7 linked regions of the Homo sapiens genome follow. The protein of the gene in region 5 purifies or fractionates together with the protein of the main gene of each other region. This does not show direct contact. Each region holds a gene or a part of one and is shown on either strand. Other genes may lie near its edges. The genes, in order: CDK5RAP2, KLHL8, SPN, CEP63, DCX, KLHL15 and CUL1.

Evidence for each region.
Region 1: the proteins of DCX (region 5) and CDK5RAP2 purify together in Homo sapiens (co-immunoprecipitation; one large-scale study listed by IntAct). This does not show direct contact.
Region 2: the proteins of DCX (region 5) and KLHL8 purify together in Homo sapiens (affinity purification with mass spectrometry; one large-scale study listed by BioGRID and IntAct). This does not show direct contact.
Region 3: the proteins of DCX (region 5) and SPN purify together in Homo sapiens (affinity purification with western blotting, with the first as the bait; one study listed by BioGRID). This does not show direct contact.
Region 4: the proteins of DCX (region 5) and CEP63 purify together in Homo sapiens (co-immunoprecipitation; one large-scale study listed by IntAct). This does not show direct contact.
Region 6: the proteins of DCX (region 5) and KLHL15 purify together in Homo sapiens (affinity purification with western blotting; one study listed by BioGRID). This does not show direct contact.
Region 7: the proteins of DCX (region 5) and CUL1 purify together in Homo sapiens (affinity purification with mass spectrometry; 2 studies listed by BioGRID and IntAct, with this or other methods). This does not show direct contact.

The regions. Positions count from the first base shown.
Region 1 is NC_000009.12:120,391,772-120,395,167, forward strand, and holds part of CDK5RAP2 (CDK5 regulatory subunit-associated protein 2), read right to left. Parts: intron 2,868-3,396; coding exon 2,741-2,867; intron 1-2,740. UniProt on the Homo sapiens protein: Potential regulator of CDK5 activity via its interaction with CDK5R1. Negative regulator of centriole disengagement (licensing) which maintains centriole engagement and cohesion. Involved in regulation of mitotic spindle orientation.
Region 2 is NC_000004.12:87,182,619-87,186,118, forward strand, and holds part of KLHL8 (kelch-like protein 8), read right to left. Parts: intron 3,182-3,500; coding exon 2,633-3,181; intron 772-2,632; coding exon 585-771; intron 1-584. UniProt on the Homo sapiens protein: Substrate-specific adapter of a BCR (BTB-CUL3-RBX1) E3 ubiquitin ligase complex required for The BCR(KLHL8) ubiquitin ligase complex mediates ubiquitination and degradation of RAPSN.
Region 3 is NC_000016.10:29,669,154-29,671,376, reverse strand, and holds the end of SPN (leukosialin precursor), read right to left. Parts: 3' UTR 501-2,223; downstream 1-500. UniProt on the Homo sapiens protein: Predominant cell surface sialoprotein of leukocytes which regulates multiple T-cell functions, including T-cell activation, proliferation, differentiation, trafficking and migration.
Region 4 is NC_000003.12:134,548,557-134,552,056, reverse strand, and holds part of CEP63 (centrosomal protein of 63 kDa), read right to left. Parts: intron 2,996-3,500; coding exon 2,881-2,995; intron 1,995-2,880; coding exon 1,797-1,994; intron 132-1,796; coding exon 45-131; intron 1-44. UniProt on the Homo sapiens protein: Required for normal spindle assembly.
Region 5 is NC_000023.11:111,409,393-111,413,617, forward strand, and holds the start of DCX (neuronal migration protein doublecortin), read right to left. Parts: upstream 2,801-4,225; 5' UTR 2,746-2,800; exon of another isoform or gene 2,578-2,745; intron 1,755-2,577; exon of another isoform or gene 1,583-1,754; coding exon of another isoform or gene 1,362-1,582; intron 1,029-1,361; coding exon of another isoform or gene 1,007-1,028; coding exon 643-1,006; intron 1-642. UniProt on the Homo sapiens protein: Microtubule-associated protein required for initial steps of neuronal dispersion and cortex lamination during cerebral cortex development. May act by competing with the putative neuronal protein kinase DCLK1 in binding to a target protein.
Region 6 is NC_000023.11:24,020,687-24,024,186, reverse strand, and holds part of KLHL15 (kelch-like protein 15), read left to right. Parts: intron 1-3,500. UniProt on the Homo sapiens protein: Substrate-specific adapter for CUL3 E3 ubiquitin-protein ligase complex.
Region 7 is NC_000007.14:148,785,903-148,789,402, reverse strand, and holds part of CUL1 (cullin-1), read right to left. Parts: intron 2,853-3,500; coding exon 2,804-2,852; intron 2,415-2,803; coding exon 2,283-2,414; intron 847-2,282; coding exon 729-846; intron 1-728. UniProt on the Homo sapiens protein: Core component of multiple cullin-RING-based SCF (SKP1-CUL1-F-box protein) E3 ubiquitin-protein ligase complexes, which mediate the ubiquitination of proteins involved in cell cycle progression, signal transduction and transcription.

The sequences.
Region 1 (3,396 bases), on a different chromosome or scaffold from region 5:
GGGGACGGAGGAAGAGGAGGTGCTATGCCAACTTTCTCCTAGTCCCTTTAGACCCAGAGCAGGTCTGTGAAGTCCGCAGGGCTTGGAGAATTTCCAAGGACCTGACTCCTTGGGATGAGCTGCAGAGCCTGGCAAAGGAGGAGTTGCAGGCCCGGGTCAGCCACCAGCTATGCTGCCTGGAGCAAGCCCCTCACCCTGCTCTGGCGGAGCCTGCTCTGTGCCAGGCCTAGGAGATATGGAGATGGACAATACCAGCTCAGGAGGGGAAGTGCTATGAGACATTTGCGGCTCTTCTTACTATGAATGATTTGCCACCTCCATGCATAGGATTTGGTCTGGCCTAATGGAAAGAAAGAGGAGGGACTGGTTGAGCATCTCCTCTGCCCCCGAGACTGTGCTAAGTACAATACAGTTTAGGTAGCGTTATCATCCTTATTTTACAGATGAGAAAACTGGGGTGCTTTTTATAAAGTTGCTATTGAACCCGGGACCAACTAGTTAGTCTGAGTCCTTTGGAACTCACGTCTCCAGTTAGAGATGAGGAATCGAAAGCTTAGGGTTCTAGTCTAATGCAGGTCACATAGGAGAATGGAGATCTGAACTGTGCTCAATCAATAATTCCATGTTCTCTGACCTAGGACACAGGGGATCTGGGTTCTAGTTCTGTCCTTTTGACCGACCACAGTACTCAACCCATCGAAACCTACTTCTGCAATTTTCTCACCTGTCAATAGGGTTAGCTACCTGCCCTGTGACTGTTCAGGGCCAAAGGCTGCTGAGGAGGAGAGATGCCAATGCAGAGAGTTCTGCCTTTCTCTAGACCTATGCAGAGCATTGCTCCCCACCCCACTGCTGCTCCAAGAGTCTAACCTAAATATTCCACAGCTGCCTTAACAGGACCACAGCTGGCACTGTCTCTCTCCAGGTTCCCCTCAGTGCTCTTTTTCTCTACGAGTGACACGAAACCCTCAACCAGAACCCCACAGACATCCACCACTCTGCCAGGTTGACCTCCTTACAATCTTTCAAAACCATCCCTTCTCCCCCACAGTCCTGACCCACTGCCCACCTGGGGGACTGCTGCAGCCCCCAAAGAGGTCTTCCCGGCCTCCTGGCCCCTCCAAGCTCAGCCATGGGATCTTGTAATACACGCATGGACCCCGCCGGTCCCTGCTGCTCGTCCTGGAGTCCTGTCCACAAGGCTCCTTGCAACCTGGTTCCTGCTTCTCCCTCTCACTCATCTCTCAGAGGAAAACCCTTTGCACGTCCTAAGCATGTCCCTGAGCACTCAGTTCTCTCTCACCCCTGGGAGCACACCAGCAAGTCCACAGGGCCATCTGCCAGAATCCTATTCCTGCCCCTTCGCTGACAAATTCCTAGTCATTCTTCAAGACCCAGTCAGTCTTGAACCACCTCTCAGGCCTCCTAGGATGCACTCAGCACATCGTCCTGCAGCTAAGCTCTGTGTCTCCCCTATTAAGCCCACGACCCTCACTGGCAAAGACTGTCTCGTTCATCTCTGTCCCCAGGACCTGGCGTAAGGGGCAAAGAACAGGAACTCAGTGCCTGCTCAGTGGCTGCGCTCCTCTCTTTTGCAGTCCAAACACTGGCAGTCTCACAGAGTCTATTTTCAGAAGGTTCCCAGGGGTGGCTAAGGAGAACTCCTACTTGGCAATAATCTCTGTCCTGTGCTTCTCAGAAATGCCCCAGAAATGTTGGACTTTGACAGGAGAGCCGCACAAGGCAGGCTGGCACCTCCAGAGAAAAAGTGCTGCAGTCAGCAGTTCTCTTAAGACAGGGAAACTGACACACAGACAGCGCAGGCTTGGCCAGGGCCATGTTGCCAACAGGCACTAATGGAAACTCAGCTACCGCCTGCTCCTCTAAATGCAGCGGGAGGGAGTGCTGAGGGTTTAAACCAGGAGACAGAGCTGCTCCCAAACAATCTCCAAAGTGGCTAGATCAGAACTGGGACTGACCTTACAAAAGTTACTTAACCTCACCAACCCTGAGTCTCGGCATCTGCCTTGAGAAGTATTTCTCAAATCCATGCCCTCCTCTGGATCCCCAGCGTCCTAGCCACCTTTCCTGTCTGACTAGTGAGTCAGCCTCCCCCTCACTGGTGGAGCAGCCACCAGCGAGCCATTCTTGCACACAGATGTGACAGGCCAATCCTCTGCCCTGAGCCTGCCACCTACAGTCTTTCATGAAGTACTCCCTGACCCCCAATCCCTCCCACCTTAATTCACTGTTTGCAGCCTTTACCCCACAGGGACTGGTTTTGGTTTCTCACATACAAAAACTTATTTCCTGCCTTTGTGCCTCTGTCCATGCTCTTCCCTGAGGGACTGCCACTCCCCGCTCCATGTGACGACGTCTGCTTTCATTTCACACTCAGCGAGGTGGTCACTTTGTCTAAGACGCCCACCTTGCCGGGACAGAGTGACGGCCACCCAACTCCCACCCCAGTGCTCTGCATGTTCCCATCACTGCACATGCCACACGACTGTCTCCCAGTGAGACGACAGTCCCTGACACCAAAAGGCCGCTCTACAAAGGTGTGTTAAGTGAATACATTTGTCTATGTGAGTCAGAAAGGATGGAGTATGAAAAGAAGCCCACAGATAGGAGGCATGATTACAAACCATCTGGGCTCCAAAGTGGGTAATCCAGGGCAGAACTGGGAGCCCTCGGAGGCAGGAAGTGGTCAGGCATAGCGGCCACCCCCACACTCACTCACATTGATCAAAGATGACTTTTTCCTGGCGCTTGCTCAGCTGCAAAAGCTTCATGGTGTTTTGCAACTTCTTTTCTTGTTCAAACAATTTTTTATGTAGTTTGGTGACCTCTGCCTTCATTTCTCCAATCTAAAGAGAAGAGAAATTAGAAAAATGAACAAAGAACATAAACATCATGTTACACAGGAAGAATTACAAAGCCATATAAAAAGATGATGCTCAACCTCACTAGCAAAAATATTTGAATGGAAACTAGAAGCCTTTTCCTGACAACCAGGAAAAGGCAAAATTGGACAAAACTCATTGAGGGTAAGGGGAAAGCACCTCGTGACCTCTGGTGGAAGTGCGGGATGGCATGGCCCAGTGAGAACGCCCTGGCAAGATCTACCAAACTGAGATGCGCTTAACTCTTTGCCCCAGCAATTCTACACGCTGGCATTTCCCCCAAGGAATAATAACATAAGCACAAGAAGATGCCTATGTACAAGGATGTTCGTCTCAGCATTGTTCATGGTAGGAAAAAATAACCTGATTTCAGTATAGATCTGGATAAATTATGGTACTTACATATAATACAATAATTTAGCAACTATTAAAAATGACGTTGTAGAGCTCTATGCATTGATATCAAAAAATGATCACAGTTAGTGACAAAAGA
Region 2 (3,500 bases), on a different chromosome or scaffold from region 5:
AAGCGAACATGAACTATTTTCTTGGGAAAAATTATAAAGTCTAAAAATTGTATCAAATAAAGGTGAAACTGCCTGCCTCCTAAAATATAAGGGCTTTAGACTCTAAGAGTTTAATATAACCCATTATACAAATGTTAGCTATGTTTAGTGCCCTTTTTATTTGGTAAAATGAAAAAACAAATATTTAGATGCACAATATATTTCAAGTTCCATGCTTGGCCCTAGGGATAGAAACCTAAATAAGATACTCAGCTGTCTTTGAAGAACTTAAGACATGTCAAATGAGTAAATGACAATGCAACATAGTAAACCAAGTTCAGAATCGGGAAAGATCTCAAAAGAAGAGATATTTCAGTAGGCTCTTCAGAGTATACAGGACTGATTACGGCTTTTTAAAAAACTGGCTTATTGGTAAAACTAAATAATGTACAGTAAAAATTATAAATATATAAAACCGTATTTGCCAATTATTACTTTAAGGCAATCAGACACTAATTATATTACAACTAAGTTTGGGCACACATGAACAACCCTCAAATACAACAAAGATCCTTCCAGGAGAATTGACAAAATAATTTGGTTACCAGCAGTATGCTTCCTTGGGGTAGTCCGAATGGAGTATTCAAAGTCAGGTACTGCTCTGCTACTCAAGTGAAGGTGGTAATTTCTTGCTTCATCCAGTAAATCTCTACATTTTAGATTTTGCTTGACAATCTGTTCTTTTGCCACAACACCCATAAGAAAATCAACCGGCAACAATGGCAGGCGAACCTAAGATCATGAATAGTTGCAATACAACAAATTTTATATTTTCTTGGGAAAATATAAAGTCTAAAAATTGTATCAAATAAAGGTGAAAACAAGATGAGTAATTCTCCACTTCTACTGCAGCATGTTCTCTTTTTAAAACTTAAGTTGTTACTTCATGAAATGTAACATGTTCATGATTTTCAATGTGCCAAATTATAAGCAATTTCCAGTACTGGTCTGCTCAAATGCAATCAGACTACACGTTAAATTATATCCACCCACTTTAAATATCGGTTTAAATAGGCTTTATAATTGAATTGTCTTCATTCAAATTGCTTACTTCCAAAAACGGTACTGACATAATCACAAGGCCCTTCTATTGATAAAGGCACAATCAAAACAAAAGTGCTGTGCTTTGTTCTTTTGCCTTTTTAAGCTAAGATTAAACATAGGGAAATGTGATTTCTTACTTAAAAATGTAAAAATTCATATCTGAAACAAGTGTTGTTTTCTTCAAATTAATGATCTTGGAAGGGAATATACTAACTTAGGGATGCATCCCCTCTTTCAACAGAGGCATTCACCATTCCTCTATTAAAGATACACTGATTTTCCAGTGGATTAAAGGGGATGATGAAACCAGGTAATGCTATTTTGAGTTAAAAGCACACACACACGTAAGGGGTTGAGTCCAGTCTCTCTCCCCAACTGCAAGACTTCGTTGCAGCAGTCCCTGTATCTATTGTTATGGCCCCCCTTGAACGAAATCTGCCTTACCATCTTAAAGAAAAACACATATACACAAATAAGATATAGCTGCAAGATAATGAAACTTTCTATTTGCTTTGCTGACAAACTTACTTTCAAAATAATTCTGAGAAGATGTAAATGTGTTCTGAACTTTGATACTCATATGAATGCATAAATATTGTGATATGCACTTGAAAAAATGTCTTATCATCATACTCTGAATAGGTTTACTTCATCTGCCTATAAATATCTAAAATGAGAACACTGGTAATTATAAGCACTTTCATTCTTCTTCATTCTTCTTACTATTTGTTTAAGTTTCTGATAATGCTATTAGGAAACTTTGTTATTAAAAATCACGAGAATTATCACTGAGTGCTTTTATCAAGCACTAAGTTTTAACAAAGCATTTAATTTAGAAAAAATAAGTAAATAAGAACACTCTTCTTTTAAGTAGCAAAATGTCATTTTACTTCTCAGGAATAAATGAAGAAAGGAAAAAATGGAGGAAGGGAAGGAGGGAAGGGAGAGAAAGGAGAGGAAGACGACAAAAGAAAAAAAGATCACAAGGGCCTATAATCTTCTTATCCTGGTAACTCCTATTGACAGTAAAAAATAAGAACAGTAACAATGAGACACATTTCTGAGGTTTAAAAAAAGTCAAACTACGGTGAGAGAAGAAAATAGAAGTGATGTCCTATGGTTGTTTACATAATAAATCTATCCACATTAGGAATAACTATACTTTTATTAGCAAAATAATTCATTAAAATTTAGAAACCATTATAAAACAATAATTATAAAGTATATTAATTTAGAGCTATTTCTTCAAACCATTTTCTATTGGCATAAATAAAATATTCATCATTAGTATCCCAAAGGAATATTTTAAATATTCAGGTTAAAAGCAGAGAATGATATTGCTAATTCAAATGTGACAAATTTAGATTCATCCTGAAACAGCACAGCAAGTTAACAGGAAAATTAGAGAGCTAAAAGCCATTTCTATTATTTATTACATCAATAATTTCTATATTCCTTGAAATAATCTACACTTTTCCTAATAAATGAAGCATGTTGATTTGCTTCCATATCACTTCATTTCTGTGTGAAATCTTATTTCAGCTCCTACCTGTGCAAGTGTTTCATCCAACCATTTGGAATGATGCTGAGGATTGGCAAGAAGCCACTTGATGGCAGCATTATAGACCTGCTTTTCATTTTCAATATTTAGATCACTGGAGGACAAAAGCTTATGGAGGTGCTGCGGTGATACACTTACAAAGTCTTCACACTCCACTACTTCAGTAAAATGGTCACAGGCATACTGATCCGCCATGTCCATTAAGTCTATTCGATTGTGACTTTCTGCAAAGGCTCTTACTGCCAGGCAATTGGAGGGATGAAAATGTAACTTCATGTATTCACAACAAGCTCTAGCCACCAGTTCAACCTGCAGAATACAGGCTGCATATAAGAGAGGCTGGACATTGTCAACAGTCAAAGTGAGCCGTGAAGAATAGACAAACTTTACCAAGTCTTCTATTGCATCACCATCAAAATCTCTAATCTCAATCAGCGTTTGCTTGGCTTCAGCCATTTCAGAAAGAAACATGGCTCTAAAGTAGGGAATAACACAAGCCAATACCAGCTTGTGACAAGAGATTAGCTTTGAGCCAACCTGTTCAAAAGAAACCAAGAAAGATTCTGTTTAATATCAAAATCAGCTTCAGGTCAGCATTTAACATGTGTTTGTAGCAGGGACAAAATTTCCAGACAAATTTAGAGTATCTTTTTATAAGGCGATCCTTTGATCACTTACTTTCAAGTAGGCCAGTTTCTTAAAGTCAGGTAATTTTCATATTCCAAATTAACCACATATCATATTCATATATATATATACACATACTTTAAAATTAAAAAAAAATTTTTTTTTTTGAGACAAGGCCTTGCTCTGTTGCCCAGGCTGGAGAGCAGCGGCGCAATCTCAGCTCACTGCA
Region 3 (2,223 bases), on a different chromosome or scaffold from region 5:
AAGAGAGGAGAAGAGCAGACTTAGGTGTGTTGATTTCACCACTACTTCCAGAATGCAATTCAAACTCTCAGCAGAGCACTATGGCTCACGCAGAGCACTGTGGCTCACGCCTGTAATCCCAGCACTTTGGGAGGCCGAGGCAGGTGGATCACGAGGTCAGGAGATCGAGACCATCCTGGCTAACATGGTGAAACCCTGTCTCTCCTAAAAATACAAAAAAATTAGCCTGGTGTGGTGGCGGGCGCGTGTGGTTCCAGCTACTCAGGAGGCTGAGGCAGGAGAATGGCATGAACCCGTGCCACTGCACTCCAGCCTGGGTGACAGGGTGAGACTCCGTCTCAAAAAACAAAAACAAAAACAAAAACAAACCTCAGAACTCAATTCAAACTCTTGAACTTTTCATAGCATGGCTCCAACCTCCACTTGCAGCCTCATCCCCTACCACTCTCCTCAAACCAGACACCCCCAGGCCACCCCCTTGAACACCTTTTTGACCACTATTTTTTCATATTGTAAAAGTAACAGATATTTATTGTATGAAATTCGGAAAATACAGAAGAGCATAAACAAAATAAAAATCACACATAAACTCACCACTTTGGAGATCAGCATGGAAAACATTTGCGATGGGTCCTTTGTTTCCCTATAAGTGCATATATGGTTGGGAATTTTTATTACAAAACTAAAATCATATGTATTACAGAGGAGTAACTTGCTTTTTTCCCCACTTAACATTATATTGCTGGTATTTTCCAAAGTCATTACATAATTTTCAAAAACATGATTTTTACTGACTATAAGTTCAATAAGCCATTTACAATTATTTTCATAACTAATATATTTAATCTTATACCATATTTTATATTTTCTTTTTTTAAATTTTTTTCCAAGACGGAGTCTTGCTCTGTCGCCCAGACTAGAGTGCAATGACACGATCTCGGCTCACTGCAACCTCTGCCTCCCGGTTTCAAGCAATTCTTCTGCCTCAGACCCCCAAGTAGCTGGGATTACGGGGGCATGCCACCACGCCTGGCTAATTTTTGTATTTTTAGTAGAGACAGGGTTTCACCATGTTGGCCAGGCTGGTTTCAAACTGGCCTCATGATCTGACTGCCTCGGCCTCCCAAAGTGCTGGGATTACAGGTGTGAGCCACCACGCCTGGCCATGTTCTTTCTTTTGAGACAGAGTCTCACACTATTGCCCAGGCTGGAGTGCAGTGGCATGATCACAGCTCACTATAGCCTCAAACTCCTGGGCTCAAGCAATCTTCCCTGCCTTCGCCTCTTGAGTAGCTGGTACCACAGGCGCACACCACTACACCTGGCTAATTTTTCATATTTCAAATTTTTTGTAGAGATAGGGGTCTATGTTGCCCAGGCTGGTCTCCAACTCCTGACCTCAGGTGATCTGCCCGCCTCAGCCTCCTATAGTGCCACCGCATAGCCACTGCACCCAACTATTTTCTTACTGTTCCTTGCTCTATCTCCTTTTTTTTTTTTGAGATGGAGTTTTTTACTTGTCGCCCAGGCTGGAGTGCAATGGCGTGATCTCGGCTCACTGCAACCTCCACCTCCTGGGTTCAAGGGATTCTCCTGCCTCAGCCTCCCAAGTAGCTGGGATTACAGGTGCCCGCCACCACGCCCAGCTAATTTTTTGTATTTTGAAACAGGGTTTCACCATGTTGGTCAGGCTGGTCTTGAACTCCTGACCTCAGGTGATCCACCTGCCTCGGCCTCCCAAAGTGCTGGGATTACAGACGTTGAGCCACCACGTCTGGCCTGCTCTATCTCCTTTTTTTGTTTTCCTTTTTAGTCTTAAAATATCCACTGCTTCTTTTGCTTTGCTTTTTCCTCCAGAAAATTAAAAGACATCTATTGTCGGGCACGGTGGCTCACGCATGTAATCCCAGCACTTTGGGAGGCCGAGGCATACGGATCAGCAGAGGTCGGGAGTTCAAGACCAGCTTGACCAACATGGTGAAACCCCATCTCTACTAAAAATACAAAATTATCCGGGTTTGGTGGTGCATGCCTGTAATCCCAGCTACCTGGGAGGCTGAGGCAGGAGAATTGTTTGAACCCAGGAGGCGGAGGTTCTGGTGAGCCAAGATCACGCCATTGCACTCCAGCCTGGGTAACAAGAGTGAAAACTCCATCTCAAAAAAAAAAAAAAGACATCTATTTCACGTTTGTTCAAAAAAGACTCTATATTGAACTGCTCCA
Region 4 (3,500 bases), on a different chromosome or scaffold from region 5:
TGAAGGCTTGGATAGTAGAAAAACTTAAGTTTCTATTTATGTACCTCATGTAAACCCAATTCCAATTTCATCACCATTTCAGAAAGATGACGATTTTCTAATTTGAGTGACTCCAGCTGATCCAAAATCTCCTGAAAAGGGGAAAACAGAAAAAAATAAATATAACATGTAAATCACATGCATCTTACAAAATTTTTCCACATGGAATTTTCATTAGGCTAAGTCATATTCTTCATTTATATATATATACATATACATATTTATATATATATATACATATATATATGTACGTGTGTGTGTGTATATATATATATATATATATATATATATATGGACTTTCTAAAAAGATTTTTAAGATGTTATTAAGGTGAATGAACATGAATGGGATGAAGATATCATTCTAATAGGATAAATCAGGTGACAAAGCAGCAAAGTTTCAATCCACTGAACCCCTTAAATCCCTACCCATTCTCCTGTGCTGGCCTCCTCCAATTTGGCTTCTACCTGCAACGTCACATGGAATTGTACTTTATTCACAAAATAACAACTTATATTCAGTTCTCATTCCCCTCAGCTTTTGTGCTTGACCATTCCCATTTGAAAATATTCCTTCTTTCCTTGGCTTGGCAAAAACTATCTGATTTCCCTCCTCACTGCTCCTTTTTTTAAGCTTCATTCCAACATCTTTTTTACACTAAATGAGAAGTATCCTAAGTTTGGTTTGAGTCACTTCTCTTCTTACGCTATGCTTTCTCACTATAATCATTAAGTCTCTCAGGGGGTTTCAAATGTCACCATGAAGAAAGGACAGCCACAGCTAAATGCCTAATCCTGATTTTAATCTTCAACTCCAGGCCTTCTGTGGAATTGACTATTACCCATACAAAATTCCAGCCTTTATTCCAAACAAATGTGTCAAACCAATGTCCTCTCCACCAGTTTCCCCAGTCTGTGTACTTTTCACACAAATTCATCATCCTTCACCAAACTTGCTCCCTGTCTTTTCTCTATTTCATTAAAAAGCATCACTTTCCATCAGTTGCCTAAGTTTAAATCCTGTGGAGCACCATTCCTTAACTCTGCCTACCTCACCTTCCCTGCCAATCAAATACAATGCCCAGTCATTTTTACCAGCCCAGTATCTCCAGAATTCATCCATTTCCCTCTGCCTCCCTTGCCCACTGCTCAGGCCACCATCTTACCACTGTAACAGCATCTGGGTGCTCTGTCTCCCTGCTTATTCTCCATTTAAGGACCACTGAATTTTACTCCTGCTTGCAGCCATTCCCTACTGACCTCAAGGTCACAGTATAACTCCTTTACGTGGCTAACGTAGCCCTTCAGCAGCCAGTCCCTGCTTTCCAGTCTCATACCTTCCACTCATCCCACTTGTACTCTAGTTTCAACCACAGCAAGCGTGTTTCTACTCTCTCTTAGAGACCTCTGTATTTTCCTGTGCCTGAAACACTTTTCCTCCCCATCACCCAGCTTGCTCCTAACTTAGCTTTGCTATCACACCTTCTGGAAGGCCTTTGCAGCGAGTGGTCTAGATTCAGGCTGCTTGTGATCTCTAGTGACTCTCACCATACACCACTGATACAGTCACTTTACTTGTCTGTGTCTACTCTCACCTCCCCACCATGCTCACTAAACTCTTTGCTAGCCAGCATACTCTCAGCTCAAAGCAGGTATCTAATAAAAATTCACTGAATTAAATATTATGAAAATTATGTCTTTAATCAACTCCATCTTTAAAACAAATTTCAAATTTAAAAAAGGTTTTGTTCAGGCTTCACCTTATGCTCTACTGCTTTGTCTTCTGCCTTTTGCATCTCTGCTCTGAGTCGCTTTTCCATGTCTGAGGAAGAACCTTTGGTGGAAGCAATAGTGATATCTCGCTGATGTAACTCCTGAGTTAGATGGGAGATTTCCATCTTCATTCCTTCTAGTGCAGAACTGTAACTTTGTTCACCCTGTAAAATCTGTTCTTTCAACTATAAAGAAGCAGAAAAGAAAGCACCAAAAGTTAAGAGAAAGCATTTAGATAGAATAATATGTTACTAGCTAATAAAATAAAAGTTCACCTTATCTCAAGACATTAAATTTCTCTTAAATTAAATCTGCAGAAAAATTAGCAATTTACCAAGTTGCATATCTGTACTGAAGGTCAGGTGGTTATACCTACAATCATTTATTATACCTCAAAACAGGGAGAGATGGGTTATTCAAGTGCTGAGGACCAGAATCAAGGTCCATGCACACAATTTAGAGGAGAGTACTTGTGACCTTCATTCTTTTTTTTAGTTGTGAATCTAAAAGTTTTGCTCATATGGTATCTTAGTCCACAGGATAACAAATAGAACAAGAGGAAGTAAGGAACTAGAAGTAATCTTAAAGAAGTAACAAAAAATACAAATCAAACAAATAGGACAGTTAGGGCCCATTCATATAGACACAAACAGCTCTGCATACCTCAATAGCTGACAAGGATACTAACTACATCATAGCACAGGAGACAATACATAAATACTATCTTTAGGCAATAAGAAAATATTAAGTGACAGTTCATATTTTTTTGCAAGCAACAGAGTGTATGTCTTTTAGAAAACTTTTCATCAAAACATGTTTAAAATAAAGTTTTTGAGTTCAAAGGGGACAGCCTTCAATTATCTTAAAAATATTTATTGGGCATCAGGGGCGATGCCAAAGAAAGAAGGCACTTTCCCTATGCACATTCCACAAACTCTTCCACTCCTAAATATCAAGTGGTCCCTTGAACTACATTTTTTTCTCATTAAAAATAACCCCTATAATCTCCCAATCCACAGCTTTGTCCATAAACACATACAATTTTGCAATCCTAGGTATGCAGATTTTTACCTTCTTAATCTCTGCTTTGTATTCATTGTTATGTGCTTCCATCCTCTTCAGTTCTTCATATTTTTCCATTAGTTCTTGGCTCAGCTGTTTACACGTTGCACTCACAGATTCCAAACTGTATGACAAAAATAAGATCCCATACTTAAAACCAAAATCCTGAAACCTATAAATTGGACTATCTAATTTACATTCTTGATATCCAAAAAATATCCAGCCAATATCTTAAACATCACCTCAGTCATTTAAAATATTACTAAAAAGCCAATCAATAAAAAAACTGTGATAAAAATGTAAACTGTTGTCCCAACGTCAAAAATAATAAACTTAATTTTAGTCAAACGGAAGAGTACACATATACTTCAATAATAACAAAGACTATCTCAAGTACTCCAAGTATTCCAAAAGGAATAAAGCAGAAAATATGTGTGTGTATGCATGTTTGTGTATTTAACATGTAGATAAAAGTAAGAAAATACTTACTGGTTTCCAAAACCAGAAATAAATGTAAAAACAAAAAATGTATTACTTAAAGATAACCTAAAAAGTGTAAAATGATATTTCTCTTGTTGTTTGCCTAAAGGTTAACAGTTCATGTTAAAAGCAATTTTATCTTTTACATA
Region 5 (4,225 bases):
AGTCAAATCCTATTCTAATAGGAATGGTCTTTATTAAAATACCAGACATACCTACAGCTTTCTTTGGTATTTCTCCCAATGACCTCAGCCTTAGGGACACACCCTAAAGTAGGCTTTTTAGAAGCAACAGCTGAGCCGCGACCACTTACCTAAAAGAATAATCCTCTGTGAATATGTCCAGGAAATCCTGCTCTTAGGGTGCATATTTCCAATGAGTTGCAATTCACAAATAATTTCTCAGCAGTTCAAAGAAAATTTGGGCATAATATTTTCTCTGTTAACCCAACCAAATGTCCTTCCTCGTTATACCCTTAATGATTTCATGCTCTGCCTCAATAGTGCTACTCAGAGTTAATTATGAACAAAATCTAGAGTAAATGCTACAATTAAGATTTTCCTTTTTATACCCTGGCAGATAAGCACAATGCATGATCACCACCATTCACACTTCAACCTCAGCAGAGACTGAAGGGTGATTGCTAATGGTTCTGTTGATGTCTATAGCATTAGAAATTTGAGCATCAATCAACCCGGTGTTTTGAAAAATACATTGCCTAATTTTTTTTCAAAGCAACCGAAGAATGTAACCATAACCAATGATGCCACCTCCCACCAACGGCCACCACCCACTATTTAAATTACCTTCCTCCAGTTCATCCATGCTTCCGATCTTCCTGGATCCATCAATGGTGTAAATGTAACGCACTCCCTGAGGCAGGTTGATGTTGTCAGACAGAGATCGCGTCAGGTCAGCCAGCAAGGCGTCAAAGCTGCGAAAACGGTCAGAGGACACAGCGTACACAATCCCCTTGAAGTAGCGGTCCCCATTGCGGTAGAAACGTACCTTCTTGGCTTTCTTCTCATTACTCAGTGCCTGCAAGGTTCTGGTTCGGTAGAAGCTACAGTGGGCGCTGTGAGTGGGGCTAGGCAACCCATTCATCCGGGAGCCTCGCATGTTCCTGGATGTCTTATCTCTTTCGTCAAAGTGTCCAAAATCAAGTTCCATATTTTGGTGGAACCTCAGAGACCTGAGCGTGGGAGAAAGGGATGGGGGTGAAGAGAGGCAAAAACAAAAAGGGACAAGGAGAAGGAAAAAAGAAGGGATTTTAAATATTAGCCAGATCCAGATCTGCAATCTGCTGCTTGTGAAAAGAACTGGTTGAAAAAAGCCTGTGACCCATCTGCTGCTTGCCCCTGACCTGCAGGAATATTGATCTTAATAGAGAAGAAGGAGGGGCTGGGCGGGGGTGCTGGTGGTTGTGGGGGTTGGGAGTAAGAGATAGAGAGGGAGGCACTCTTGGCACTGTTCCAGACAGAGGAGAAGGGGAGATTTTGAAATAGCTGAAAATCCTGAGACTTACTGACAGTGGCTCCTATCAAATTGGAACTTCGGGCTAAATACATTAAAACTGGCATCTGTTTCCTCACACATGCCCACATGACTAACAGTTGTAAATGAATCCATAGCCTGACAAAATTCCCCTTGAAGAGAACAGAAGGAGCTACCCAAGGTTAGCATCTCCAGCTTAGGAAGCAGTCTTTGCATTTCAGTACAATGACTATGAAGGGGGAGTGTTTTCATTTTATTCCAAGCCCTCTTTCCTACTCTAATGTGTGCATCCCCTCCCCCCAGAATAAACTAAGATTCTCCTTTAAAGGGACAGCCTCCAGGGAACAGCCAGTGTCTTTGTGCTATTCATCAAACCCTTTCCCCACCAAGCTGGTGCAGCTATCCGACATTCATAAGAAATAAGCTGGGGGGAAAAAGGATTAGAAAAATAAGTTATTTAACAAGTTACTAGCTCTGTCTTCCCCCGGTTCCATTTGTTCACAAAATCCTTTTTTTTCCCCCCCAGGTGCTCCACCCCCTCCCCACTGATGCAGCAACACCTCTTAATGGAATAATTTAATTGTTGAAAGATTCACAAATGACTCTCCGAACAGCATACGGGACCTTTAGAAGGAAGCACACCTTTCATTGTTCTGGGTTTCTACCTTAATTGAAGTGACATTTACCCTCACAGCAGGCAATTCACCCCAAACTTGTATATTGCCCAGGTGCATTAGCTGAGAAAAGATGGTCATTTGTCAGGCTTTGCTTTTCTCCCTTCTGTTGAACCCCCTCCCCCACCAAGAACCCCAAACAATCAAAACATGAAACCCAATACAACTGAAGCCACAAATGCTAGCAAATGTAGTGACATCCTACGAGCCAAACTATTAACATGCATCTCACAGATGGGGATAAAAGGACTCACAAAGCAAGCAGGGCTCAGCTGCTACACACTGCCACATCAATATATTTGCAAGGGACCAGGAGGACAGGAGATAAGAAAGACTGGTGCCTAATGGGTCTGCCAGGCTCAATTCCGCCTTTTTTCCAATGTCACCATGACCTATGCTGAGCTCAGCATTGTCTCTGTCAGACAACCTGCAGTGGTAAGAGACCCCACCTCCTCAAGGCAAGCAGCAAACATTTCCCCAGGCATGCCAGTAAGGCTTTGCTTTGCTTTAGGATCAGAGGTAGTATTATTCTAAATTAACATCACAGTGAAAACAAAGGAACATCAAACTCACTTTTCCAAAGGAAAATCCCAGGTAGAAGCTTAGGGAAAAAATCGGATAGAATAAGGCAAAAAAGGAGAAGAGGAGACAGAGAGACAGAGAGAGCAGGCTTTGCCTTGTGCTTTTCCCGTTTGACATCTGTTACATTCTTCTTGAAAATCACTTAAAAGCCCCACTCACCGGTTTTCTGCTGGTTGGGTGGAGATGCTGAGAGAAAGAAAACCAATCTCTCTATGCCTTTGTTGTCTGAGCTCCAAGCAAGAAATTCCTGCCAGGGTGGATAGATGCCTTCTAGGTCCTAGTGCCTTGTCCAGCTTCTCCCATGTAACTCAGGCTTAGTGAATCCCCCCAACCTCCTATGATTAATTACATGCTTTTAAAAAAATTCACAGGCTGCATTAACAGCTAGAAAGGTTTCATTTATAACCAACAGGAAATTGCGGGGTAGCAAAAAGATTGCGCAGACAAAATCAGAATGCTCTAATGAGCAATGTGCTAGCCCTTTCTTTTAGAAAATTGGCAATTTCACTTGGCCAAAACCTTGGCCTAATCTGCCTGGGGGCCAGACTCAGACAGCCAAGCCAGGCTTCTTAGAAATTGTAGCTCTCTTCCTTTTACCCTCTTGAGAGAAAAAAAATAAAATAAAATCTGCAGATTCTTTAAGGCAGTTTAGCTCAAGTATCCAACAACTGGTTTTTTGTTTTTTAATGAAGTCAACAAAGTAGACTAAGAGGAAGTAGGATAGGAACAAAACAAGGGAAAATAATTTTAGAATATTATGGAAGATAGAAGTAAAAAGGACATCCCAAATCTATCAGCTTGGTGTAAGAATTTGGTTAATGAAAGGTTAATGTGGCATTTACCTTTGAGAGTTTGGAAGTTCAAACCCAACCCAAAGACCTTTCTATGTGAAGTAAATCTGATGGCTACAAAATAAATATTAACAGATTTCTCCTCAAACTGCTTATTTGTCACTAACTGACTTCTTTATATAAAATATGTTACAAAAAAAACTCAAGGAAGCATCCAAATTGAACTAATTAGATCAGGCCGAACTATAAAACAAAAGAGAAAGGTGAGAGGTTAAATGGGGTAGGGGGATGCTACCATCTTCACAATTGAAGCTACATGCATCAATATGTAGCAGCCTTGAACTATCATGGTTCTATTTTTGCTTGGCTTCCAGGAAGCTCAGAGCTAAGAGCATGCTCAGTAATTATTTTATATCTGATTCCTAGTATAATTAACCCTTCCTTTTATATAGTGCTGTTGAACTTTTATATTTAAGCATTTTCTCTGCATGTGTTTTATTGTAAGCTGCCACCAAGTGGGATAAAATATATGATGGTCTTTCTTCTGTGAAAGGTGTTGACTCAGCAAAGCCTGGAACTGTCTGTTAGTTGAGTGGATAGCCTCAAATGTGCAACCTACCTAGTTAAGTCCCCCCAACACCTTGCTGCTGATTTCTTGGTTACTATACAAGTACCTCAGGGGAATGCATGTGTCTGCCCTGTTTTCTTCCATGTGTTGTTGCCTTACCTTGTGGCAACCTCATGAAAAATCAACATTATTCAGGCTAGAGGCAAAGAAAAATCAAGGAATAAGGGCAGGAAAATATGGAAATTCCAACAAAGCTAATGTCTTAAAACTTCTTTCTTGC
Region 6 (3,500 bases), about 87 Mb from region 5:
CCTCCTACGAAGTGCTAACTGCTTATTTAAATAACGGTATTCTTTAATTCAAATGTAACGTTACCGTAGGGGCTTTGCTTTTCATCGTTCTAGGCCGCTTTAGGCCCCTTTTCTTACTCCAAATATTTAACACCTTACATTTGTTAGTCTTTTCTGTTTTCCGAATTTGTTTGCCTTTGTTAATCTGATTAAGTGGTAATTTAGAAAATGCTTTGCAGACATATATGCCCTAATTTTAATGCCTGTTTTTCATATCTAGGGAGCAGGATGCTTGAATACTTCTACTAATTTGAAAATTGGTTTTGAAGAGCTTATCAATGCATTCATGTTTCAGTAATCCTTAATAGATCTAGAAATGTATAGAACATTTCAACTTTTTAGCACTTAATGTAATTATATAATTTTATTCTCATTTTTAATCACAACACGTAGTAGGTGCTTAGAGTCACAGTTTATCAGTGGTAGAGGATGTTAACTTGCACTCTTCATTGCTGATTAATTTGGGGAAAGAATAGGATAGTAAATATTTGTGGTTTGAAAATTGAATTTATTTTGCCAGGATTTATATGTGTAACAGATTAGTATTGATCATTTTTACTTGGCATATCAAAAATATAGTATGGTTTGGCTTAAATGGTCCACAAAAAGTGAAAAGAGAAGCATTTTTGGGTATATTGTTATTTTTAGCTAACAAATGGTTTTGAGTAGTTAGATGTTTTATTAAATTTATAATCCTCTAGTCCAATACCAGTTGTCTTTCAGAGTATGCTTTTGTGTTTTGTAAAAAGGCAAAATAATAGAAGTTGGGCAGGATTTACATAGTAAAAGGAAGAGCCTACTTCAAAGTGGCTGGTTTTATAGATTGGATTTATCACTAATCTTGATAAAATTTTGACAAATCATTGCTTTATTGGGGATTTCAAGGTTTGACCTTCTCTCTACCTCGAGTCGGGTTATCTCAGAAACCTAACCTTGATCAGGGCAGGCTTGGCTTCATGGATGTTCAGAAGGGCCCCACACTTGGTTTAATAATCTGCATGTAAAACTGGGATTGTACAGTATAAGGGTGAATGGTAAAATTCATGCTAATTTAAATTTTTAATTTTCCTTTACTCAGAACGACATTAAACATCAAATTTAAAAAACACTGAGAGCCGGGAGCGGTGGCTCAGGCCTGTAATCCCAGCACTTTGGGAGGCCGAGGCGGGCGGATCACCTGAGGGTCGGGAGTTTGAGACCAGCCTAACCAACGTGGAGAAACCCCGTCTCTACTAAAAACACAAAGTTAGCCTGGCGTGGTGGCGGGCGCCTGTAATCCCAGCTACTCTATTCCCAGCTACTCGGGAGGCTGAGGCGGGAGAATCGCTTGAACCCGGTAGGCAGAAGTTGCGGTAATCCAAGATGGCGGCACTGCACTCCAGCCTGGGCGACGAGAGCAAAACTCCGTCTCAAAAAAAAAAAAAACCGCGAAACAGTTGAGAGATACAGAAGAAAGTTTTGAAAGAGCTTTACATTTTATTACCTTTAACGACTTTTTTTTTTTTTTTAAGACAAGAGTCTTGTTCTGTCGCCCAGGCTGGAGTGGAGTGGTGCGATCCGATCCCCGCTCATTGGAACCTCCACCTCCCGGCCTCAAGCGATTCTTGGGCCTCAGCCTACTAAGTAGCTGGGATTATAGGCGCTCGCCACCACGCCCGGCTAATTTTTGTATTTTTAGTAGAGACGGGGTTTCACCATGTTGGCCAGGCTGGTCTCGAACTCCTGGACTCAAGTGATCTACCCGCCTTGGCTTCCCAAAGCGCAGGCGGGAGCCACCGTGCCCAGCCTTTTTTTTTTTTTTTTTTTATCTTTTGAGACACAGTCTTGCTCTGTCTCCCAGGCCGGAGTGCAGTGGCGCGATCTCGGCTCACTGCAACCTCCGCCTCCCGGGTTCAAGTGATTCTCCTGCCTCAGCCTCCCGAGTAACTGGGATTACAGATGCGCGTCAGCATGCTTGACTAATTTTTGTATTTTTAGTAGACACGGGGTTTCACCATGTTAGCCAGGCTGGTCTCGACTGACTTCAAGTGATCCGCCCGCCTCGGTCTCCCAAAGTGCTGGGATTACAGACATGAGCCACCGCGCCCGGCCATCGCCCAGCCTTTTAACAACATTTTTCCCTGATTTTGAACAAGAGTCCCCGCAAATGATGTAGGTGGCCTGTTGTCAAGCCTGGCCTTTCCCAGTGCAAATGTTTTGAGAGTGAATAATGTTAACTGTGAGGAGAATGAATCTTTAGCTTAGAGGAGGTGGATTACTTTATTAGCATCTATTTTCTCTGAATTGGAGTGCTATAGCTCATGTGGTGCTTTTTTTTTTTTATTGAAGAGAAATGAAAGATGGAGCCATGGGTGAGGCATTGTAGAACAGTGTTTAATAGGGGAGGCTATGAAGTCAGGCAGACCCCAACTTCACAACTTACTAATAATTATAGCCTTGGGCAAGTTACTTAACCTCTGTGAGCTTTGATGTTCTCATCTTTAAGTCGGGGATGGATACAAAACATGGAAGGTTGCGAGAATTAAATTTATCTGTCTTTCCAACAAATATTTATTAAGCACTTATTATGTGCCAAGCACTGTTTTAGGTGCTGGAGATGCAACAGTCAGTGAAGCAAAACCGACAAATTGAAGCAGAAAGGAAACTAAGTAAAATGGATAGCCTGTATTGCCATTTAATATACTGCAGAGAATAATAAAGTGGAGGGGCATGGGGATTGTCAGGTTGATGGGGCAGATGGGGTTTTGCAACTTTAAAAGAGGGTGTTTGAGGAAGGCCTCACTGAAATGACACCAAAGACCCTAAGGGAACCATATATATCTGGGGATAGTGTGATCCAGGCAGAGGGAACAGGGTGTAGAGAGGCCTTAAGTTGGGAGTGTAGCTGGTTTTCAAGGAACAGCGGCACCAAGGGAGATAGTAATATAAGATTATTATTATTGCCATTTTAAGAATCATTGGAAAGGCTCTCATAGTTCATCTCTGCCAAGGGTATATGTTGTATTGCTGCTGGTCCAAAAGTGGAAGACCTTTTCAGAATTTGAAATTTTAACTTTGCAAGTAAGAAATTAGGAAAGACAAAATATGTTGTCAGGTTTTCTGTTTTTAACGTAAGACCCTTAAAGCTCATCAGGCTCAATCACTGAAACATGTAAGAATGGATAGAAAAAAATACCCTTTGTCTCTGATAAGATCTTTGAATTTAGTTAATGATATATATTATAGACTAATGATTTGCAGGAAATCTGTATCATAACAGCAAGACTTTCCAAAATATTTAGTTTGGTTGTATAATTCTTATGAGGAACTGAAAGGCTAACATTACAGTATTTGTGATTTCATGTTAGAATAGAACTTAGAAGATTTGGGGTTTTATTCCCCAATAGAGGCTTTTCCTAGAATTCTCACTGGATCCAATCTCTAAAGGCTAGGGAAGCTGTTTTCCATGACATCACTCTTGG
Region 7 (3,500 bases), on a different chromosome or scaffold from region 5:
CATCACAGCCCCAGACTCATGCAAACTCACAAGCAGGAGAAAACCGCTAACTTCATTATAGTGTATGTTTCACTTATTACTGGGAAACGCCACACATGGTCTATAAATTATAACAGTAATTTCATCTTCGCAGATAGTTAAAAAGCCCACTGGCAAAACTGTCCAGTTTTACAATAGAATTGTCATTCTGATTTGGGAAAAATAAAATTCTCCATTTTTCATTTAAAAAGACAAAGATGATCAAAAGATGATGTAAGCATAAATCCGCCATCCTACTACTATGCAAGGCCCTAAAATACCAGCCCAGCTGCCTCTCCTGGAGAACTGAATCACCTGCACCTGCCTGTACTGATCCCTAATCCCAGTCTGAAGCCACAGGTCTTTAGCTTGACTGTTACCTATGCAGGCCAAGTGAACATTAAAATAAATGCTAGAATGGATCCAAGCTAAGGTTTACAAGACAAAACCACGCCTGTGAGTCCCTCCCCAGATCCCAACAGGTGGTGACCTTGCCCCAGTAGAGCTGACACCACTTCAAGGGTTGTCATCTCCTAATGTCACACGGGAGTCGGGGGAGGAGGGCTGGGCATTTGGGAGGAATCTCCCGCTTCTTAGTTCTTGAATTTCTGACAAAGCCCCTCCCATCTTCACCTAATATTTTGTCATTTCTTCATTTGCTACAGAGAACTCTGCCTGTAAACACAACATAGAGACACACGGATACTCACAGTCTAGGGGTTCTGAGTTTGTCAAGTGCTTTTTGAATTGCTCGTTCAGATCTTTGCTCACGCCAATGTCTTGAAACATGCGCTGAAGTTTAGAGGTGTACTCGAACCCGCAAGCTTGCTGAGAAGAACCCAGATGACTGTCTTATTAATTTGTACAAAAATACAAATGTATACAAGGGAATCTTAGAGAAATCAGAGTATACAATATATACTTAATTATATGGAACTACTAGCAAAGCTAGTAACATTTTGCTATATTTTACAGTACAAATATGCATGGATTAATATTAATACACTGTCAAAAAACCCCACAACTCTATGTTGCACAGTGAAGTGTTCACACACACAATTCATACACAATTTGTGAGCATTTAAGAGCAAGGTGTCCTGACACTGGTAGAATACAATGATGAAATAATCTGTCTCTATCTCTTACCAGAAGCTGAACTGTGTGCCCCCAAAATCCCTATGTTGAAGCCCAAACCTCCAACGTGATGCTGTGTGGAGGTATGCGGTCTTGAGCATGGGGCCTCACAATGGGATTGGTGTGCTTGTAAGAGATGTGCAAGAGCTCTGCACTCTCTCTCTGACACGTGAGGCACTGCAAGAAGGTGGCTGCCTACAAAGCAGGAAGAGGGCCTGCACCAGGAACCGAATCAGCTGGCACCCTGATCTCGGACTTGTGGCCCCCAGAATTGTGAGAAACTATTTCTGTTGTTTAAGCTACCTGGTCTATGGTATTCCGTCATGGCAGCCCACGCTGACAAAGATACCTACATAATTTGGGGCCAAAGTAAAGTATGTCCCAAGTCAGATAAGAGCACTCGACAGCGCCGACACACAGGCACGCAAAGGAGGTGGCAGAGGAAGGGCTGCGTGACAGCAAAGTAACCAAGCCCAGAGCAAACAAAACCTCCACTCAGCTCCAGGCCAGCACAGTGTGGAAGTGTGAATGTGCTGCAAGGCTAAAGGTGTGGGAGGCAGGAGAGGCCCCACAGATGGTGAGCTGAGCCCAGCCAGGCCTGGGTAGGATGGAAGCCCCACAGTGGGGTGGGGAAGGGGTTGGGAAGGCACCGGGGCCCAACGAGAGTAGAGTGATAGTTGTGGGAGGCTTTCAGAAGAGCAGTGGCAGAGCTTCTTGTACAAACCACTGCACAAACTCCTCTGCCTGCCTCATAACCTGGAGAGACTAAGAGCTTTTTTATTTTTTTCTGAGACAGAGTCTCACTCTGTTGCCCAGGCTGGAGTGTAGTGGTGTGATCTCGGCTCACCGCAACCTCTGCCTCCCGGGTTCATGCCATTCTCCTGCCTCAGCCTCCCAAGTAGCTGGGACTACAGGCGCCCACCACCATGCCCGGCTAATGTTTTGTATTTTTAGCAGAGATGGGGTTTCTCCATATTAGCCAGGATGGTCTCGATCTCCTGACCTCGTGATCTGCCCGCCTCGGCCTCCCAAAGTGCTGGGATTACAGGCATGAGCCACCGCGCTCGGCCATAGAGCTGTTTTAATAATGACTCAGAAGCTGGGATTTTTCAGGAAAAGATGAAACTCACCTTTAACTTGGAGATCATGCTGGCTTCGGCATCGTCACTTGCACTGTTCTGGTGGACGAGCCTCTTGGCGAGCATCTTCGCATAGAACTTCTGAAATACGTCTTTGTCTTCTATGTACTTGAAGACAACCATCTGGCAAAGCCACCGAGACAACACACTTAACCAGCACACACACAAGCCAACAGTGCAGAGCTGACTGTCACCGGCCACAAGCCAGGAGCCAAGATGTGCCTTTGGCTTTGGGCAGGTCTGTACGCCAACGTTTATGATGGCAAAATCTCCACTCCAGAGTCTTGAAAGTTTTGTGAGTCCCTTAATTCAGTGAGTTGGACTGACTGAGTATTAATGAGAAAAGTATGAATGCTAAAAGTAGTAACTCAATTTAGGAAGTAAAACCAGAGATTCAAAATAAAATCAATGATTATTACTTTTCACATTTCAGAGGCCATCTACAAATAACATTACAAACAGCTTGTGAAATACACAGCTACTGGAAATGGGTATGCTCATGAAGCACTTACCACTTGATTGAGTGTGTCTTCTAGTTCTGCCTCCTCTGGGTTCTTGGAACTGAAAATTTTAAAAAGATACCATGTTTTAAAACATCAGTACGTTTAAACAAGCACCACTTAGCCAGAATGCAGCTTCAAGCATTCAAAAGATCAGTTCTCATCAGATTAGTGCAGAGGAAGAGGGAAGGTTGACTTTCCTTACCTACAGCAAACTGGCAATCTCATACTGTAACCTCAACACTGAAGAACAGATTATGAAGTAGTCATTTAGAATATCCAAGGTGAAAACCAACAGGAGATATTTATAAAACATTTCCAAAAACATTCTGAAGAAGTTTGCCTTTAAGATAATCCACTTAAACTTCAGTAAAGGAAATTCACTTTACCAATTGCTTTCTAGTCTGCTGTAATTTAACTTTGGAGAAATAAAAAGGCACATAGATTCCCTTTCATGGCCCAGTCATTAAAGATGATGAAGGGGTTTAAATTCCTACTAAACTGCTGCCCTCTGTAGTTGTATATACAAGAGATGATTGTCCTTTAACAACTGATTCATTCTATGAACAAATAATAATTCAAAGGTGAATTAAAGGTAGATGAATTTTTGTACAGGTCTTTTCTACAAGACTGCTTTATAAACAAGACCCCCTAATTCATATAAAACGAATCAGCCACCACAGAAACTCTGAAGAGGTGTCTCCAACTT